Regions from separate parts of the Homo sapiens genome. Here region 1 is linked to region 2. Evidence: fine-mapped expression QTL. Tissue or cell type: whole blood. Region 2 holds a variant in brackets; the other region holds the start of a gene. All regions are shown on one strand. Distances are between the middles of the regions.

Region 1 (2,679 bases), 78 kb before region 2:
CTGGAGCCACACTGTAGTGTAACTAGAATAAAAACGGGATAATGGGACCAGGCGCGGTGGCTCACGCCTGTAATCCCAGCACTTTGGGAGGCCGAGGTGGACGGATCACTGAGGTCAGGAGTTCAAGACCAGCCTGGCCAACATGGTGAAACACTGTCTCTAACAAAAATACAAAAATTAGCCAGGCGTGGTGACAGCACGCCTGTAATTCCAGCTACTCCGGAGGCTGAGACAGGAGAATAGCTTGAATCCAGGAGGCGGAGGTTACAGTGAGCCGCGATCACGCCACTGCATTCCAGCCTGGGCGACAGAGTGAGACTCCGACTCAAAACCAAACAAACAACAACAACAACAACAAACCGGGATAATGGGATAGAGTGGAGTGGGGCGTGGCTGGTAGCTGTTGTCAGGGAGGGCTTCTCCCAGGCGCTGCTTATTTGAGCAGAAATTGGAAAGATGAGAAGGGGAAGTTCTTGGATGCTCAAGTTAGAGGAACTGTAAGAAGCTGGCTGAGGCGGGAGGATCACCCGAGCCCAACTACTCAGGAGGCTGAGGCGGGAGGATCACCTGAGCCCAGGAGTTTGAAGCTGCAGTGAGCTATGATCATACCACTGTACTGAGGCCCAGGTGGCAGACCCCATCTCTGAAAAAGCAAAGAAGGAGCAGCTGGTTTTTCTGGATCATTGACATGGTGGGGGGGAGGGGACAGGGTAGTGGGCGCTAATGTGAAACGGCGAGCTGCAGAGAGGAGGCGGGATTTTATTCCAAGGGTACTGGGGAGCCGTGGCACAGTTTAGGGCAGCGCACAGAAAGTGCCATGCCCTTTGCACCCAGGACGCTGGGGCTCCCGCACGGACAGTAGCCCCAGGGGCCCTTCCCGCCGCCGCCGCAGCCGCCACCACCACCACCACCCCAGCCGCCCACGTGTCCCGCGAAGCCCCGCGCCCCACGTGCTCCCGCGGCCCTTTAAACACCCCGGAGCCACGTGACCGCGCTGCGCCGTCCCATTGGCCGGGGGGCGTGGCGGCCGCGCGGCTGCGCAGTGACGCGCACGGGCCGGCCCTGCCCCCGACCCGGCGGCGGCGGCGGCGGCGCTGGCGGAAGGGATGACGTCACCGGCTGGGGGGGCGCGCGAGCGGGAGCTAGGGGAGCGCGAGCCGCAGTGAGTGTCCTCGCGCCGCCCGCCCGGCAGCCCGGCCGGCGCGCGCACGCCGCGAGCCGCTGGCGCTCGGGCTCCGCTCGGATCCCATGCAACAGCCACGATGTGAAGCGGGGCAGAGCCGGGGGAGCCCAGCCCAGCCAGCCTCCAGGTAAAGCCAAAAAAAAAAATAAAATCATGGATTAGAGGAAAAAAAAATGCAGGCGCTCCAAGGGGGGTCTCGGAGGCAGCCGAGTGGGCAGCGCGCCGGCTTTGTGCCGGGGAAGCCTGCACGGCCATTGTGCTCGGAGGATGCTCGGCTGCAGCCAGTTGCACGCCCAGCCGCTGCGCCCCGGTAGCTGCGCCCGGACAATGCCCCGAGGGACAGGGCCGGGGCCGCGCTGGGGGCGCTCGGCAGGGGGTGCTGGGGGGGCTTCGTCCGCGGCGTGGGAGGGGGCTGGGCTGGAAGCGCCCAGAGCGCGGCATTGGAAGCTGCCCAGCGCCGCCGGCTGCACCACCCCGGGCTGCGGGCGGGGCAGAGGCGCGGAGGGGGGCGCGCGTGTGTGCGGAGCCGGTGCCGGCCCCGGCGGCGCCCGGCCCGGGTCCCCGGGCGGGTCCTGGAGGCAGGGGGCGCTGTGCCGGGGGATGGGGGGCATGCGGGCGCCCCGGAGCGGAGAGGAGCCGGGACGGGTGGCTCCAGGCGGGGTGGCTCCAGGGCTGCTGCGCCCGCCGCCTTCCCTCTCCGGGTCTCCCTCCCCTGGAGACCCCCTAGTCTACGCCGTCTCCCCTGGAACACTCCGGGCCCTGTCGTTGCCTTATGGGAGGTCGCCCCTCCGGCACTCGGGCATTGCCCCACCCTTCTGCGGCCTCGGCGCCCCCTTCCAGCCTCCCCACCCAGGGGCGAGCCTCAGCCCCCAGCCCCAGGGGCTCTGGCAGGCAGACGCGCACGCCCAGCACCCCAGTCTCCCCTCCGCGCTGGGGGCCCCGTGGGGATCCCGAGAGTGGGGAAGCCGCCCCTGGAACCGCCAGCCCCGCGGGTTCCGCACGCCCCGGGAGCCCCCGGGGGCTGCGGGGGGAGGGGAGGTGACGTCATACCGGGGGCGGGGCCGTCGGCACTGGGTTAAAGGGGGCGCGGGGCGTGCCCTGAGGGGAGCCCCCCAGGTTAGAGTGCCCGCGCCGTGGGTGCGAGGGTTCGGCCAGGTTGCGGCCAAGTTCACCTCTCTTTATGGGAATCTCTCCTAAAATTAAGATCCTCCCCTTCGGACCTCCCCCTACAAATCCTGGACATTTCCCACCAATTCCCCCCCTTCCCAAATTGGGGAACTCCCCTTCGGCCGCTTTCTCTCCAGAATCCTCAAATCAGGGAACCTTTCCCACAAACTGGGAATCTTTTTTTCAGCCACACCCCCCGCCCCAAATCTGGGACCTCCTTCTTCGGTTGACCCTCTTTCCCCAGTCTCAAATCGTCTTCTCGTCTCCCTAAATATGCAGCTTCCAAGAACGCCCCTTCCTCTGCAACCCTTCCTCAAATCCAGCCACCT
Region 2 (2,679 bases):
TAATAGGGAGCTATGGAAGGTGGCAGAGAGCATCCTCTACAGAAGCATTAGGCACGTCCAGTGAGAATACAGTGGGGCCCAGACAGGCAGGAGTAGTGGAAGCTGTGTAAGGCAATGGCAGGTGTCCAGAGGTGACAAGTAAGGTGATGGGGAGCCATAGAAAACTACAGGGAGAGAGTCTCTCCAAGGCTGAGCAGTAAGAGGTGATGGCGGGGCTTCAGGTCTGTAAGGGGGCACAGACGGGCAGTCCAGCCTGTCTGTTCAGGCCCTGGCTGGGCTAGGGAGACCTTGGGACAGAGCCTTGGAGACGGGTGGTTCCACCATTGTGTCTCCACAAAGCACCCACATGGCCCATCTGTGGGTCCATCTGTCTGGGGGGCTGTGTCTGCGTGTGTGTTGTCCCCCCGCTTCACGACATGTCCACGTGTGCATGTCTGGGCTCCCTGTGCCGGCCTGGCCTGCCTCCCGCCTGTGGGCACAGGTGTGCAGGCCTGGCTGCTGTCACACACGGGCCTCCCTTCCCCCGCCCGGAGCAAAGTGTCCGCCTGCATCTCGGCCACACGTGCACCCACATTGCAGTCACTCCCGTGCCTGTGCACACAGGGCAGTGATCCGCGCACGCGCCTCTCAGCCTGCACCTCCCTAGTGCTCGTGCGTGGGGACACACGTGGTGGGGATGTGTCTCCATACATTGGGAGCACACGTGTGGCTGCACATGCGTGTTTGTCTGTGTCACGGATTTACTGTTTTCAGTTGTGCCGGGCTTGACGCCCTGCCTTCGTTCAGGTCACTGTTGAGATCACCCTGCACCTCCACACACCCCTCTTTTTGCTTTCTCTCTCCCCTTCCTCCGAGGATCCCGCCACGGAGCCCCCTTTGCAGCAGTACCTCCCCGAATCATCCCCAGCGCCCCTCACTCACTGCCCATCGTTGCCCCCCACCAAAGAGCCTACCTACCTGTTCTCCGCTTTCTGCTCCTCCTCCTTAGTGAAAACCAAGCCCCAAAAAGATCAGACGTGGAGCCCAGAATGTCTTCCTTGGAGAGACTCAGACCTCACACTGGGGGGACAAATCGCCTCCTATCTCCCAGCCTGGCTGAGGATGTTTGCAGCTCATAGGCCTCTGCAAGCAGGGGGAGCGGTGGCCTCAGTTTCCCCATAAAACATGCCTATTTTCCTTGTGTTCTGGTGACCTCTCCAGGATGGAATGTCTAGCGCCTGCTAGGTGCTCAGTGAACATAAGCCACTTTAGGAATCATAAGAAATGTTGTTATTATTATTCTGAGCGTCCCCCTCCCCTCCCCCGCCCTCCCCTCCTCG[C/A]TGAGGACATAGGATTCTTTGTAACCACCCGTTAACGTTCCTGTTCTCTTTTCTTATCCTCCTGTTGTAAACGTTCAGAAACCTTTGGTAAGTCTGATTTCATCACCACGTCAACAACTAACGCCCCATCCCCTTTGTGCCCCTTCTGCTCCCCTTCTCCTCACCAAACTAACAGCCACCGTGATGGTAACTGTGACCCACTCTGCCTGGTATGTTTACTAACGCCCTCTCCCTCCTCCCCGCGACCGGCCCCTCAGCCCTCCCCAGCTGGCACTAGTGTGCGGCAGAGAAAGAAACCCAAAGGAAAAGAGGAAAAGAGACAAGTCCACCCAAAGGAAAAGAGGAAAAGAGACAAGGCCAGGCAGACCTCAAAATGCAGGCTGAGGGGGGTTCAGAGGCATCCTCGGGCTCATGGAACTTCGCACCTAACAACATTTCCTCCCGCACTTTTTTCTTGGCCTTAGCCCTGCTGGAAAAGGATTTAATTACAGAAGTTTGGGGGCTGGGGCTGGGCGTGGAGTGGAGATTTTTCCAGCCTAGCTGCTACTGGGCACTTCTCATCCACTTTTCTCAGCATTCAGCCTGAATCTCCTGAAATCAGTTGTGGGACTAATTCATACTAAAGTGAGAGTGACTGATATCAGCCTATGCTATCAGTCCCTTCATCTCTCTCAGGGTGGGAGGCGGAACACCTTTTAATGGCTAAGGGATACATTGTTTCCACTTGATAGAATAGCCCTGAGTGATTTGGCCAACTTGAAAAGACTTCTTTTTTTTTGAGACAGTCTTAATCTGTCACCCAGGCTGGAGTGCAGTGGCACCATCTCGGCTCACTAAAGCCTCCACGTCCCCGATTCAAGCAATTCTCCTGCCTCAGTCTCCTGAGTAGCAGGGATTACAGGCACCCACCACCACACCCGGCTAATTTTTGTATTTTTAGTAGAGACGGGGTTTCACCATGTTGGCCAGGCTGGTACCCCAAACTCCTGACCTCAGGTGATCCACCTGCCTCGGCTTCCCAAAGTGCTAGGATTACAGGCGTGAGCCACCACGCCCGGCCTGAAAAGACTTTCTTTAACCCTGACTTCCACCATCGTCATCCCAGTGTCCTAGCAAAGGCCAGCCTGGATTTCCGCTGACTCGGATTCCAGTTCTCCAGGGTGTAACTTTAGGCAAACTTCTGTTTGCTCCCCTCTAAAGGGTGCAGAGTGGCCTCACGAGAACACCTCGAAAGATAATTCAGGGACTCCGAAAAGTTCAGGCCAGAAGCTCCTCATCCCAGGAGGCTGGAGAGCTAGGCTCAGTGCCCACCCCTGCCTCATGATGGGACCTCAGAGATTCCCCTCTGAGCCTCAGTTGG

The links. PIP is the estimated chance that this variant, and not a neighbour inherited with it, causes the effect.
Region 1: it holds the start of PTPRS, and the variant in region 2 is fine-mapped to the expression of PTPRS in whole blood (TOPMed, PIP above 0.99).

Annotation. Positions count from the first base shown.
Region 1 is chr19:5,339,295-5,341,973 of GRCh38, reverse strand. PTPRS (protein tyrosine phosphatase receptor type S) reads left to right here and starts at 1,162. Exons shown (of 38, transcript NM_002850.4): 1 at 1,162-1,310. RefSeq lists a silencer at 955-1,234.
Region 2 is chr19:5,261,691-5,264,369 of GRCh38, reverse strand. It overlaps PTPRS (protein tyrosine phosphatase receptor type S), which reads left to right. Exons shown (of 38, transcript NM_002850.4): 6 at 1,398-1,406. Among named protein-coding and RNA genes, the nearest start is that of PTPRS, 78 kb to the left of the region's middle. The variant C/A (reference allele first, on the strand shown) is at 1,320.